Linked DNA regions of Homo sapiens: region 2 is linked to region 1. Evidence: fine-mapped expression QTL. Tissue or cell type: putamen. Region 1 holds a variant in brackets; the other region holds the start of a gene. All regions are shown on one strand. Distances are from middle to middle.

Region 1 (8,107 bases):
AATTTTTCAGTGTTTTCAAATTTTAATTGAATTCTTGCAAGATGAATGGTCCCCACAATCAAGCATCACCATCCTCAAGTCTTCTACCCACCCCCAACCTCTCAAAAAACAGCTTTTCCCTGAAAAATCAACCATTTAACCCATATTTTCCTGAACATTTCTTGCATGTGCTCTTTGCACTTCCAAAATTATTTTCATCTTAGTAAAATCTCTTAGAACAATAAATGAAAATGGATAAGATCATAAGCATAATGGAATTTTTAACCCAGAAAAGGACATATCAGATAAACAAATAATGAGAATATAGAAAATTTAAATAGCCATTATTAATAATCCAAATATAATAGAAAGTGGGGGGACTGTAAAAAGAATGTAAATTCACTAGAAGAAACTGGGGATCTTTGACAAAATGGCTGATCTCTGGGGCAGGACATATCCAAGGTAATCCTGGGATGCCTTGCTGTGCTAAAAAGCAAAAGACAAACCATAAAAACCACTAAGGCCTTGTCAATAAGCACTCAGAAACCAACTTGAGGAGGTTCCCTCTGGCTTAAAATGGGACAATTCAAGCACCAGTGTCATGGACTACAATGGACTGAAGCACAAAACATGAGCTTATAATGATAGTTAAAAGAAATTTTTAAACCCCATTGATCATCCCGGGAGGGTGCTAGGACAACTCAACACTATGAAAAACAACAAAGAAAGGGGAAAAATCAAATATGTATCTGCCTTTCCGTACAATCTGTATTTCAGAGCTGATGAGGTTAATTTCTATTTACAGAAACATTCCAGCAAATAAATAAGGAAGAAATAATAGGATTTAAAAATTGACATTTGCAGCTCCTGTATCTAGGCAACAACCATCAAGGGATGCTAGACCATTAGGAGAAAAGTTGATTGCAACTTTATAGTGGGTGGAATAGATGGTCAACTGTAAACCTCCTAATTAGTCTTGACATCGCTCAAAGTGGAACCAACAGACACAAGCTTCCTAATGCAAGGCAGCCGAAACCAGTCAGCACCAGCTGTGAGGGCTTCACACCTAAAAAAGAATTGAGCCTGAATCTCATCAAACCTCTTGATCTAACTAACCATTTCAGGAAATGTGGGAGCCAGAGGAAAAACCCAGCAAATTTGGAATGTCATGTTGAACAGTCTACAGTGCAAATACCCCAGTTCTCCATGAAAGAAATGGGATAGAAGGGTGGGAAATTTTTTAAGAACTTGGAGACTTAAGAAACAATGAAATGCCATGAATGGACTTTGGATTCAGATAATTCAACTAACATGCTTCTTTTGAAACAACAGATACATTTGAATATCACCTAATAAAGGGAATTATGTTGACTTTTGTCAGGTGTACTAATGATGAGGTGTTTTTACATACTGAAGTATTTCTGAATAAAATGACACGATGTCTGGTTCTTGATTCATACTACTCTGGTTAGTATTTTTAAACATGGGGCAAGAATAGATGTATTGAGATTGTCTTGGTTGGGCGCAGTGACTCACACCTGTAATCCCAGCACTTTGGGAGGCTGAGGCGGGCGGATCTCTTGAGGTCAGGAGTTTGAGACCAGTTTGGCCAACATGGTGAAACCCCATCTCTACTAAAAATACAAAAAATTAACCAGGCATGGTGGAATGCGCCTGTAATCCCCACTACTCAGGAGCCTGAGGAAGGAGAATCACTTGAACTGGAAGGCAGAGGTTGCAGTGAGCTGAGATCAGGCCACTGCACTCCAGCCTGGGCCACAGAGCGAGACTCCATCTCAAAAAAAAAAAAAAGAAAAAAAAGATTGTCAAATGTTAATTACTGAAGCTGGATGGTGTGCCCAGAGAGGGTTGGTGAATTATTCTTTATGCTTTTATTTGCAACTGGGCCGGAGGGTAGTGGGGTGGGGGACAAATCCGTCTTCAAATGTAGGCTAGCCATTTGCAGCTGAAATCCTTTTAGTGTTGCCTGGGCAACTCCAGATGACTCTTCCAACCATGTGTGGATGATCTGCTCATAAGAACTTCATTATTGCTTTGAAATACTGAATATAAAAAAGTTCCATTGGATTTGAAATGAATTTACCACAAAATTTCAACTTTACATTTGTCAATGAAAGAAAATAAGTGATGTTAACTGTAATTTTAACTTTTAGAAAATCTCAAAGGTTGTGAAGAAAAATGGTTAAACACTTGGTCACCTACTGATGCAGAGTTTCACTGATGAGCGCTATCAAGAATTTGAAGAGGTTTTTACTTAAAACTCTTAATCATAAATTTCACGGCAGTATTTCCAGCATAAAAACTGATAGTAGAAAGCTGAAGTTTTTTCATTTGAAAAAAAAAAAAAACTTAGAGTGTCTTTGGAAATTTCCTGTAAATCGAATCTTTAATATATTTTCTAATATGTGCATTTTATATTTATTATAATTATATAATGAAAAATAAGTCCCACATGATGCCCCTAAAGCTCCTCTAGCACACCACAGTGCATCATGTCAATATTATCACTTTCTATGTATGCTAATAATCTGAAAAATACTGGGAAGCTGGGAAGCACCGCTATAGATTCACTAAACAAATAATACAAAGCTTTGCATTCTTTAAAATTGAAGGTTATGTTCCAGGAAGATTAAACAGCAACTTTATAATGAACAGTCCAAGGAGAAATTTAGAAAGTGATTTACCTCCAAGAAGTAAAACCCGCTGACATGTAAATATCTTTAAAAAGAAGAAGAAAACACCGTTCCTCCTCAAAGCTGGTCTTATTTCTATGCTCCTCAGTTTACAATGGCAGCCATTTTCCCTCCCTTCCTGGGGAAAATAACAACCAGCCCATTATGGTGAATTCTCACAGTGACTAAGGTGGTCCTTCCCTGTGGTGTGAGCACTGTGAAGTTAGGTGTCTAGCATAATCCTGTGAGTTTTTATTTTGACATGTTTGAGCCACTTAAGGATAAATTACAGAGCACTGTGTATCAAGATGACAAAGACAGTCTCAAATTCATTAAAGTGTTGTGGAGGGCAGCGGGTACTTGAAAATTCTAAACAGGATTTGTCGACACGAATATTTTTCAAGAGATTACACAGGTCACTCGATATGGCAGAAGGGAAAACATGCTTTACAATGGTGACATCTGGCGGTCACCATCCAAATCAAATGATTAAGCATCATCAATAGTGGGGCAATCTGACATTGTGTCTCCTTATGTGATACAAAATGACTCCCACCGCATCGCCTACGACACATTCTTGCTAAAAAT[G/A]TAAACTTGAACTTAAGCCTTTAGCCCTAGTCTCCAATTTAGAGGAAATTCAAGGGATACAGAAACAGGTTAAAAAACACTGTGAGAAAATTATCAAACAAATCCAGAAGGTGGGGTGTTTAAAAAGATAATTGTCTCTTTAAAAAGTCAGTATCATAGAAGCAAAAGTCAGGGGTGTAGAAAAACGTGGGAGCACTGTTCCCAGGGCACTGTTGATCACTGATCTATCACCTGAAGTTTCTATAAACGAAAATAGAACTGCATATTTTGGTAGATGAAGTGAAGAAGTGTAAGTTGTCTTTTCTTTCATTGCTTCTCCCAGTAACTTCAGCCAGAAGCAGCCTCTCCAAGGTTTAAAAATGGTCAACTTCTCTTTGATTTAATATCTCCATCTATAAGATTATTACAGTCGTCCCATAATTTGGAAAAGATTGAGAAGAGCTGATTGCAACAGTAACACAGTGCTCCTAAGGGTATAGTTCTGAATGGTCACCCTCCCTTCCTTCCCCTGATCGCAGGCAATCTCCAGGTTTCCATGGGCCCCAGAAGAGCAGGGAATCAGATCTGGTTCCAGTGGCCATCACCTCACAAACAAAACAATTGTCTCCATTCCTTCCCGGAAACCCACTCCACTTTTTCCTTTAAGCCCTCAAAACAGAGCCAGACTGTTTTCCCTTTCCCCAGACAATGGGGCTACTCACTTGTCCCCCTCCCCAAAAGGAGGCTACACTCAGGGACTCCAGGGGAACCCCTGTCTTACCTTCTAAGGAAGGATACCCTAAGTAATTTTTCTAAGGGACCTACTCTTTCTTAGGGAGCTTCTTCAGAAGCTACCTCTAATAAATACAAGGAGTGGAATGATTGGTTCATTGTAACAGAAGATTGGTGGGGGAAGAGGACCTACAAACTTAATCTCTAGTAATACATCATCTCTGGTAGGATACACCACTATATCTTATTCTGAAACATGATTTTTATTTAACCTAAAAAATAATATGAATTCACACCTTCTAAGTCAGCAAACCTCAGAAGGGAAAAAATAGAAAATAACAAGTGTTGGTGAGGATACAGAGAAAGTGAAACTCTTGCACATTGCTGCTGTGAATGTACAATGGTGAAGTCGAGGTGAAAAACAATTTGGCAATTCCCCCAAAAGCCCCAACATAGAATTTCTGCACAACCCAGAAATTCTACTCCAGGGTATACACCCCAAAGAGTTAAAACAGGAAATCATACAAATATTGGTCCACTCATGTTCATTACAGCATTGTTCACAGCAGCCAAAATGTGGAAACAACCCAAGTGTCCATGAACAGATGAATGGATAAATAAAATGAGGTACAAGCACACAATGAAATGGATTCAGCCCTAAAAAGGAGTAAAGTTCTGACCATACTCAACATGGACAGACCTTGAAAACATTATGTTAAATGAAATAAGCTAGATACAATAGGACAACTTAATTTTTTTGAACCCATACATATTTATTGATAATCTATCTTAACCATGACCCAAGTTAATGGACAATACAAGAGGTTTGCATGTAACCCAGAAGTTTGCAAGTTACAAACTATAGAACAATCATTTGACATAAGACTCAAAGTCTGTCCTTCAGCTCCAGACCCCCAAACCTCATCCCAGCCCTTCTTTCCAAGACAGGGTGGTCAACCACTTGCTAGGCCTCTAGTGATTATTTGCTTCCTTTGTATGTGTTTTCTCCTGATTAAAACAGAAACATTAAATCATGATTCTTGTGATTTGTGTCCACATTTCCAGAGCAGCTGATGCTGGTGCGCTAACAGCTCAACCTTCACCCAGCCCTCAACTCAACTTGGCCAGATTCCAACTAGGGGCTTGACTCACCTCATTTTTTGGTAACAAAAAATGTGAAATAGTCTACAGTTTTTCAGTTTCTTCCCTGTTTTTTCTAAAGGGGATCTTACTTACCAAAATTCATTTTCCTAGTTTTTAAGCTTATTTTCTTCTGTAACTACGCTTTCTTCTTTCAAAACAGTATATTTCCATTTGATCAAAACTAGCAATAGGACAGTTTATATAAAATATCTAGAATAGACAAATTCAGAGAGATGGAAAGTAGATTAAAGCTTACCAGAGACTGGTGATAGAGGGAGGAAATGGGAAGTTATTGCTTTATGGTCATAGAGTTTCTATTTGAGGTGATGAAAAAGAGTTTTGGGAACAGAGGTAATGGTTGCACAATATTGTAAATGTAATTAATGCCAATGAATTGTACACTTAAAATGGTTAAAATGGCAAATTTTATGTTAAATACGCTTTTACCACAATAAAAATTTTCAAAAAAAAAGTGAAAAGATAGCCAGCATATATTGTTAACAGTTTTATAGTGTTCCATTGTAGAGCAGTACTATTATCAGTCAGCTGTTAGAAGTTTGCAATATTTGCTCTTTTATAAAAAATGAACACCCTTGTACATATAACACATATACAGCTTTATGTACTTGAATGAACAGTTCTGTAGAATACATTCCTAGGAGTAGAAGTAGGTATTAAAGAGTATGGACTTCACAGAAAACTTAGGTGTGTGTACACACACACACACAAATGCAAAATTTGGGCCTCCAAAGGGGCCATCAGTTTAAACTCCTGCAGCTGCTGTATGAGTGATCATGGCTTCATTGTAGCCAGTGGGCTATTGGCCACCTTTTTATTCTTTGCCATTCTGATTTTCTCCCATCTTATGATAATTGTAACTTTTATGTCTTTAATTATTAGGGAAATTTAACATCAACATTGGCCTAGGCCAATTGGTCTTGAATGGATGTTGAGTAATAAGTACAAAATTCCTGAAGAGTCAAATTCCTGTCAAAGGAAATAGTCGGACATGGAAAGTGGCCACAAGCTCTATGGACATCAGCAGAGGAGACTCCAGATCCAGGGTTAGGAGTGGTCAACAGAGAAACTTGTGTGAAGGCCTCCATCTCTCCACATCCAAGGTCGACACTGGTGTGAGGGAGGTGGAGATGGTATAGAAGTTTCCTTTCTCAGAGATCCCATCCTGCCACTCAAAGATCACTGGTGGCAGGACCCTTGTAAGTCTCTGGGGTAACATTTTGGACAAAGCAAGCTTAGGGGAGAATGAGATCATGATTGCCTCTTACACGGACAGTCAATAAAGGAAGGCACATTCTCCATTATTTGTTGGCATTCAAAACATGGAGAAACCTATTCTTAATGCTTTCCCAACCTACACTAAGTGAAGCCATGGGACAAGATTCTCTGTATAAGACTCCCGTAATGACCACACTATCTGGCCAAACTGTTGTCATTTCCCTTTGAGCTCTAGCACCTTGAGATAACATGCTGTGGCTTTAGATATCAAGGGCTGAGTGATCTAAACCCTCAGGCTGACTTGTAGGACAAGAGAAACCTAGCATTCTAAAAACGTATGCTGGTGACTCTGAGGCTCTTACTGACATCTGCTGTCTGGATAGCAGATCTGCAGGCTGTGACTCCCTGAAAAGTCCTTCCTCTGTGTAGTGAAAGAGGACCTCCTTTCAATCCGTGAGCCAGTTATGAATCTCATCATGATACAGGATGAAATAAATTTGGATCATCTTGGAGATGAGTCTTAGCCTCCTGTAAATGAGAACCTCCCTCGGCTTCCACAAGTGTTAGATTTCCATCCTCCATTTATGCTTTGAACCTAAAGCAGAGTATGCAATTCATCTGATAGCATCTGAGGCTTTGGTGTGTGTTTGGGGGAGGGGAAGAGAGATAAGGATAGACAGCTATGGTTGCAGGATGCTTTCTGTTTTGATCAGTCTTCTACCATCATTACCAACATTTTCTGGGAAAGAAGGAAGGACTGATGATTGAGTCTAGACATTTAGACGGTCCGGGTTGATTCATGGCCATTGAAGTTTAATAAGGGCCCTCCTTTGCTATAGTAGGAGGTTTTTAATCTAGGTGTTTAAGGTGGAAGTCTTGGCATAACAGCAAGCAAAAGAACAGACTCTTTTCTGAACTTTGTGAAAGTTATGGTCTTCTCTTGCAGAAGACATACAACTCTAATTGTTGTTTGCTACATCATCCTAAGGCTCAATAATGCTCCTGAGCTACTGTCTCTAACTTTACAATCTCATTAGACATCCTTCCTGAATGATGCATGTATAGTAAAGGGACAAGTCAGCAACAAGCAAAAATTCCTTGAATGAAATCTTGCAAGGCTGACTCTTGGGGCTAGAAGTCAAGTATTTCAACTTAAGTGAGTGTGGCTCTTCCTCAATGGACTAACTCCTCATTTTATTATTGGGAAAATGGCACAGTCTCTCAGGTCTCATAGCTCAGATATTCCAAACATTCAATTGTCCTAAATCCAATGCAATTGGTTTTCAGCTTATATATCTAGTTGTGTTTCAATAGCTCCTTTGAGTTTTTGGAGGTTAGATTCCAGTTCCTCTTTATATCCTAAACAGTAAGTCAACAATTAAGGGGGTAGATACTTCCAATTGTATCTGAGTTACTGGAAGAAGGAAGAAAGATCCAGGCCTTTGTCTCTGGAAATTTCTGAACGCATGCCAGACCTCTACAATCCAGAAAGAAGTACACACACACACACACACACGTGCACACTTACACACACACACACACATCCCAAGATAACAATAAACCCTTGGTTCAATGCAATCTTCCTTTGAAAAGGACACCATAGTTATATGTGAAAAGTCCCCTTATTCCAGGTTGGGGTATAAGAAATGACTTCCCACAGAGGTGACCCAGAGCCCAACATTCAAACCCTCCATCTGCGGATTAACAAGGATTATGGTCTTTCCTCCCCTGGGTCCCTCTTCTATCAATGTTTAAGA
Region 2 (8,107 bases), 350 kb before region 1:
CTCTTCAATAAAATCCAAGAAACATTTATCATTGTTCTATGTCATTGATATGGAATGCATTTGATGTCTCAATTTTCAAAGCCCAACAACAAATGTTTATCCAATTCAAAACTCGCACTGGGGAGGGGAGGCAAGGGAGCATGTTAGCACCCTCTTCCAAGTCTATAAAGAAAAACGGGCCAGGCACGAAGGCTCACGCTTGTAATCCCAGCACTTTGGGAGGCCAAGGTGGGTAAATCATTTGAGGTTAGGAGTTCAAGACCAGCCTGGCCAACATGGTGAAACCCTGTCTCTACTAAAAATACAAAAATATAAAAAATAACTAAAAATACAAAAAAGAAAAATGTGGTGGCAGGTGCCTGTAATCCCAGCCACTTGGGAGGCTGAGGCAGGAAAATCGCTTGAACCCGGGAGGCGGAGGCTGCAGTGAGCCGAGATCACGACGCTGCACTCAAGCCTGGGTGACAGAGCAAGACTCTGTCTCAAAACACAAAACAAAACAAAACAAAACAAAACAAAACAAAACAAAAACGAACAAACACAAAAAAGAAACATTAATAGTGCGGTAAAAATTGGCCTAAGACAGATTATGGGCTAACTCATATAAACACAGTAAGATATTGTTAACATGATTTGAGACATTCTATTAAAGTTCAACTAAATGATCAACCAAAATTTGGAGTAGAACCCTGTGATTATAATAAAGAAAAAAAGTAAATATTTAGAAAGGCAACCTTTCTCTTCTTTCAGCAGGACCCTCTCCAAAAAGTGTGATGGGTTCCCCCAAGGCTCTAAGGCAAGCTTTGACCTCTGAGTCATCTGTGGAAACATTGATCTGCCGGGCTCGCTTCCTTCTCTCAAACTCAGCCAATACTTCTGCCTGTCGCTCGCTGATATGCTCTTCAATTTCAAACACTTCTCCTATTAAAAAGAAAACAGGCAACATCAGCAGATCTTCTTCAAATAGAGAGAAATAATTTCTAGTAATTGCAGTCTGTGTATGCCCTGAGGGAAAAGTAACTGTCTATTACACATTTTATAGTTTACTGTTTTTCAGTTTATTAAATTATGCCAAACACATAAACCTAAATGACACAGCTTCAAAAGGCAAGAAAATGGTTCAAGCCACCTCTTGTTTCATTTATTAACTTTGTGCCTATATAAACACACACTTTGGCTGAGACCAGCAAGTAAGAGTACAGAACATCTTTTGCAAATGAGTTAACTAGGCTGTCTATCCAGAAGATGTAACAGAAACATTATTGTAACAACAGCCAAAGCTATTTATTCTCGAAAGGAGACCCAGTATAGGGATACTTAACAAATCATTAACTACTAAACTGCAAATAATTACCAGGAAAATGAGAGTTCCACAACTATAAGGATTTCTGGATAATCTAGCAATAGTTTTGAAACCCACACCAAAATACAAGTGTGATAAAAAATGAGAGGTACAGTGGTGACGTTATGTTTAAAAACAGTATTAAAAGTTTAAAAAGTCACTAGGCTACAGTGCATGTGTTTAGAAAATGTGTGGGAGGATCAATAAGAAACCTGACAGATGTCCCTACTGCAGAGGAGTCTTCATTTTATGCCCTTTGGCATTGTCTGAATTTCTTAGGACAAATATGCATAATTTTATTTTTAAAATATAGTAGACCTCTCATTACTGACATGGAAAGATATCCTCAATGGTATATAAATGAAAAATGGGGGTTATACAACAATTTACGTATTGTGTTTTCATTTATGGAAAAAATTACATACTTTTTAGCTGTATTAAAATTCTCAGAAAGATATACAATCAATTAATTTTAAAAATACAGGATTTTCTACTTCACACATTTATACATTGATCTTTTAAAAGAAAATAACTTTTTTTTTTGAGACAGGGTCTCGCTCTGTTGTTCAGGCTGGAGTGCAGTGGCACAGTCATGACTCACTGCAGCCTTGAACCCCCACCTCAGAACCCCAATTAGCTGGGAATACAGGCACGTGTCACCATGCCCAGCTAATTTTCTACTTTTTGTAGAGATGGGGTATCACTATTTGCCCAGGCTGGTCTTGGATTCCTGGGCTCAAGCCAGACTCCCGCTTCTCAGCCTCCCAAAGTGCTGGGATTACAGGTGTGAGCCACCAGGCTTGGCCACTATTACTTTTATAATAAAAAAAGATAGCTCAGTCAGGTGCAGTGGCTCACGCCTGTAATCCCAGCACTTTGGGAGGCCGAGGTGGGCGGATCATTTGAGGTCAGGAGTTGGAGACCAGCCTGGGCAACATGGTGAAACCCAGTCTCTACTAAAAATACAAAAATTAGCTGGGTGTGGTGGCGGGCACCTGTAATCTCAGCTAATCGGGAGGCTGAGGCAGGAGAATCCCTTGAACACAAAAGGCAGAGGTTGCAGTGAGCCAAGGTTACGCCACTGCATTCCAGCCTGGGCAAGAGAGTGAGACCCTGTCACACACACACACACACACAAAAAGATTTCACTTTGGGTAAAAAATAATTACAAAACTTCAAAAGGGAGAATATCATGAACCACTCTAGCTGCAAACCAATGCCAGAACTATGTTAGATCTCCAGAAGACAAATGGAATCAATCTGAATCCAAATGTACACTGAATTTTTGATAAGACTGCTCACTCATAGAAGAAAAACTATATAACAGATTGTAAGAAAAAGGCTCTCTGCATGATAATAAGGGGGTAGGCAAAATACAGCCTTATAGCTGCAAGTTTAAGAATTGAAATTCTGCCGGGCACAGTGGCTCACACCTGTAATCCCAGCACTTTAGGAGGACGAGGCGGGCGGATCACAAGGTCAGGAGTTTGAGACCAGCCAGACCAACATGGTGAAACCCCATATCTACTAAATATACAAAAATTAGCCGGGCGTGGTGGTGTGCGCCTGTAATCCCAGCTACTCGGGAGGCTGAAGCAGGAGAACTGCTTGAACCCGGGAGGCGGAGGTTGCAGTGAGCCAAGATCGCACCACTGCACTCCAGCCTGGCGACAGAGCGAGACTCTGTTTAAAAAAAAAAAAATTGTAATTTTTTGACATTATAAAACTGTGGTATTTAAGTTTAGAAAGGTATTCATTACACAAAGAGGTAAAGATGGGCTCACAATTTGCATCTTACCAGAGGTTATATTAATATTTCCAGCTTCGATCCCTGCTTTAAGTCCGTCTTTCCCCAAAATCCCAGACTCTCCTTTGGCCAGACGCTCCCTCTCCTTCTCTTCCAAACTTCCATAATAGATGTGTGGTTTCTTCACGACCGGAGCAACTAAGTCGTCGGGTGCTTTAGTTTTGGTTGCCTGCTAAATCAAAGATCTGCATTAAACTAAGGTTTAATCTTGGCAATTTACCGGACTTCACCAGAGGATGAAGCTCACCCTGAGTTTCACAGTCCTGTTTCCTCTGTAATTGAAAGGACAAATTGGACACTACTTAAGACGCTCTTCATTGATTTGAGGAGGTGAAGGTAGGGTGAGGGTGTTTCAGTCCCTCACTTTGGTTGATGGGATTAATAAAACTAGTGAGGTTCTCTCGGGTATTTTCCTATGAAAGGTTTGCTCTGAAATCTGTTTACTTCATTCCGTTGGAAGTGTTCAATCTCGTGTTTTATGCTTCCCGGATTACTGCTTATCACTGGGGAAATACTAAGGATAGATGAAATAACCAACGCGGTGCTAAAGGATAACAAGTTACAACATTACAAGTGTATACATTTCAAACGTTCCTAGACGTGAGGTAGTAGGAGTTAGTAGGTCTCATTAAAATTCTGAGATCTGCCAAAGGCATAAACCTTGGCCAAGACACTTCCCTATTTCAGAGCACCGTTACTGGATGAGTCGGAAGAGATGCTTGCCCTTTGGGGCTGTAGTGGGAGAGGTGCAAATAAGCTACAGTCCACGAAAGCGCTTAGGGATCAGGAAAACGGTGGTCCGCTGTGTAGGACACCGCTGAGTCCCGCAGCCTTCCTCCTCAGCCCTCCACCGCCTTCTCCCGCTCCTTAACGGCCCCTTCCCGCAGAGATCCCCTTCCCCCTTAGCGCTCCCTGCCAGAGTGAGCTGGGATCCCGGGCTCTGTACCGTGGAAGAGGCTCGCGAGGAAGCCATGCTGGGCTCTGGAGCCGCGAGGCCCCAGCGAAACCCGAACACTCCCTTTCAGACCGTCCACCGCGCGCCCAGCAGAGGGGAAGTGCGTCACTGACAGGAAGTGCGTCACTGACAAGACGTGGGCCAAGAGGGGTCACCGCCCCCGGAGCGGCGCGGAGCATGATGGAAGTCGTAGTAGGAAATGGCGTCGTGGCATTGAGGGGCATCCCTCCTAGAACCTCCAGGAAAAGCTCGCGGAAGACGAGGTTCTGCGGAGAGAGAGGCTCCAAGCAGTCTGGGAAGTGTAGTCCAGTTGGCTTAGCAGTAGTTTCGTTGGGGGGGAGCCGAGGTTCCGGGAAGGGGCTAGGCCGGCTTGAAAAGAGGTAGGTGAGTCGACTCGCGCGGCTCGGGGCTGAACTCTGGAGCGAGTCAAGGGCTTCCGGGGTCCGCTGTGCCCCCCGGGCGTACGGGGGCGTTTACGTCTTCTTGGAGCCGAGGACCATGTTACCATAGAAACCCTTGCCTGGGCTCCGAGGTACAGGCCTGGAGCTAGGGGACGAGGACTGTTCTCCTCCATGGTCCGGAAGTCTTCCCAGGCTCCCCCTCTGAGCTTGATGGCTCGGCGGTGGATTTGGGCTGCGGCGGGAGATTAAGCTAGAAGAGCCCGCTAGTGCCAAAGTCAAATAAAGACCCGGCGGAGGAGCTTCGGCCTGATTTTGTTGATTTGTCTTCAGCCTGGTCTTTGTATCAGATTGAGAGTAAGATGATGGATAGGAAGGTGTCAGGTAACTCTGTACGTCTCTCTGCCCTGCTGGATGCTGGGGCATTAGAGACGAACAGGATAAGGTTTTTATCCCCACATGGGCGGTGGGAGATCCTCAAAATATTGACGTTTCCCTAGCTGGCCAGATCCTCATGCAACCCCCTAGAACAATTACAGCAATAATAGATGTTATTTATTGAACATTTATTAAATGCCAAATAATATTCCAAGAGCTTACTCTGTATTACGTTATTGACTTCCTACAACAGCAGAGTAGGATACAGATGAGGGAACTAAGGTCTAGTGAGAAATGAAACGAATTGTTCAGGATCGGTGGTGTAGTGGGATTAAAACCTGTGCCCTTTAACCTCTACAGCCAGCACTTTTAACTGTTAATCTATACTGCTCCCTAGTGGCCAGTTTTTTGCAGTTTGCAGAAAAGGTAAAATGTATAGATTTTTTTTTCCCCCTTTTAGGTATCCCTATCCCTCTCTTTCCCTCTTTGGAACTTTGGCTTTCTCTACCATTTGTCTGCATTGGAATCTGGTAGAAGATAATGCCTGATTTAGTACAAAGGAATTTGAAATGTAATGTGCCAGTGTTTTGTGTTGATAATATCACCTGTAGTATCCTAAGCTTCATGGGAGAAGGAACTATTTCTTCCTTTGTATACTTCACAGTCCTTAGTTTCATCCTAGATACGTGTAATAATTTGTATCTGTACATACTTTCAAGGAGTTTTCACTTCCATCATTTTCACTTAATGCTTATCATGTTGACCTTTATAATTTTTATAGGAGGCTAAAATTATTAACCAAACTGAACAGCTTGCTTCGATGACTTCTTTATGTGTGAAATAGGAATCATTTTGTCAACTTCACAGGGTTTTTGTGTTAAAATAAGAATGTAAAGAATGGGAATGGAAAAACAGCACGGTGCTCAAGAATGATCTCACCTTCTAGTCAACAAACATTTACTGACTGTTTTTATAGATACACTCTAGGGGATGCTGTGGAGAATATACAAATGATGCCATCAACAGATATTAAACTCAGTTGGGGGGTTGTGTTTTCTCAAAAACAAAACAAAACAAAATGGTTTTTGTTAACATAGTATTACCTTGGGATTTCAGGCTGTGGAATGCTCTCTTGAGCCTTTTTTTTTTTTTTTTTTTTTTTTTGAGTTGGGGTCTCATGGTGAGGTCATGGCTCACGGTGGCAACCTGAAACTCCTGGGCTCAAGTGATCCTTCCACCTCAGCCTCCTGAGTAGCTAGGACTACAGGTACACACTACCAGCCCAGCTATTTTTTTTACTTTTTTGTAGAGACAGGGTCTTGCTACGTTACCAAAGCTGTACTTGAGCCTCCTTGTGCATTCTTCTCTCTGCCTGACCTTCAGAAGTCAACTAAGACATCATTTTCTCCAGGAAGGCTTGCCTGACATCCTTGTCCACCCCACACTCAGCCCAGACTGGATTAGGTGCCTGTGTGATGCCAGTGCTAGTATCCTCATCAGGGTTCTCATTACATGATATCACAGTTTTCTCTTTGTTTTCCCCACAGATTATGACTGTACCTTTTAACTTTGTAGCTGGAACACAAGAAGTGTTTGTTTAATGAATGACGTACACATTTAAGATCTGTTTGGACGCGGAGGATAATCCTGTGAATTGGTGAGTTGGAGTTTTCCTGAGATTTAGCAAACTGATTTTAGCATTCAAGAGTGATCACAAATCTCTGACAATTCTCATGTAGGGTAGATTAAATTCACTGGTTTGTCCACTTTTTCCTCTAACTATACTAAGATGTGATAGTTTATTCTTTTAGCTAGAGTAGTTCTTTGAATGTGACTGGAACATGAGATTAAAGTGATGGTTGCCTAGAATTTCTCTCTTATAGGCAGTTTGCTATTTTAAATTCTTACAGAAAGAGTTTTTGATTTTATAGAGCTGTAGATCTCCATAATGTAACAAAAATGTAATAATCACATACCTAAAGACTTTAGAAGTTGGCTGGGTACAGTAGCTCTTGCCTATAATGCCAGCACTTTGGGAAAATGAGGAGGGAGGAACACTTGAGCCCAAGAGTTTGAGACCAGCCTGGGCATCAGAGAGAGATCCCATTTCTACAAAAAACACAAAAATTAGCCAGGTATGGCGGTGTACGCCTGTAGTCCCAGCTACTCTGGAGGCTGAGGCAGTAAGATTGCTTGAGTCCAGGAAGTTGAGGCTGTAGTGAGCTAAGGTCATGCCACTGCACTCCAGCCTGGGCAAAGAGCAAGATCCTATCTCTTAAAAAAAAAAAAAAAAAGACTTTAGAAGTCTATGTGTAAATTCAAATAAATTTTTAATATTTCCATTCACTTTAGTATACATGCTTGCAAATTGATTTTATGTTTTGTATCTGAGACTTTATCACCTTCAGATTTTCCTCCTCTCTTTCATTTTTAACAGCTAATAGTTCACTGGGTTTGGCCCTTAGTGTTGACTTCAGTATGCTGAGACGGAAACCAACACGCCTAGAGCTAAAGCTTGATGACATTGAAGAGTTTGAGAACATTCGAAAGGACCTGGAGGTATGAATACAACTTTGTGTTTTTTTGAGATGGAGTCTCGCTCTGTCACACAGGCTGGAGTACAGTGGCATGATCTTGGCCCACTGCAACCTCTGCCTCCTCTGCCTCAGCCTCCCGCGTGCTGGGACCACAGGTTCATGCCAGCACGCCCAGCTCATTTTTTTATTTTTAGTAGAGTTGGGGTTTTGCCATGTTGGGGCCAGGCTAGTCTCAACTCCTGACCTCAAGTGATCCATCCACCTCAGCCTCCCAAAGTGCTGGGATTACACGCGTGAGCCACTGCACCCAGCCATGAATACAACTTTCAAAGCTTAAGGAATATTTAAGATAATAATTCTTGTGTGGGCACAGTGGCTTACATCTGTAATGCCAGCATTTTCTGGCCAGGAGTTTGAGACCAGCCTGGGCAACATAGTGAGACCTTGTCTCTATGTTGGGCAGGGTGGCGCATGCCTGAGCTACTCAGGAGGCGGAGGCGGGAGGATTGCTTGAGCCCAGGAGTTTGAGGTTACAGTGTGCTATGATGGCTCCACTGTACTCCACACTGGGCAACAGTGAGACTCTCTGTCATACATAAATATGTATATACACACACATACATACACAATAACTTTAACTTCTGAACTGCAGACTCTTAAGCCAACAGCTTATTTGAAATCTCTGTTTGG

Evidence for each region. PIP is the estimated chance that this variant, and not a neighbour inherited with it, causes the effect.
Region 2: CDC26 starts here. The variant in region 1 is fine-mapped to the expression of CDC26 in putamen (GTEx, PIP 0.92).

The regions. Positions count from the first base shown.
Region 1 is chr9:112,920,283-112,928,389 of GRCh38, reverse strand. No RefSeq gene overlaps it. Among named protein-coding and RNA genes, the nearest start is that of SLC46A2, 33 kb to the right of the region's middle. The variant G/A (reference allele first, on the strand shown) is at 3,261.
Region 2 is chr9:113,271,759-113,279,865 of GRCh38, reverse strand. It overlaps CDC26 (cell division cycle 26), which reads left to right and starts at 4,294. Exons shown (of 4, transcript NM_139286.4): 1 at 4,294-4,484; 2 at 6,428-6,537; 3 at 7,318-7,439. The coding sequence starts at 7,359. It overlaps PRPF4 (pre-mRNA splicing tri-snRNP complex factor PRPF4), which reads right to left and starts at 4,208. Exons shown (of 14, transcript NM_001244926.2): 1 at 4,096-4,208; 2 at 3,141-3,318; 3 at 735-921. The coding sequence starts at 4,122. RefSeq lists enhancers at 4,221-4,560, 4,328-5,183.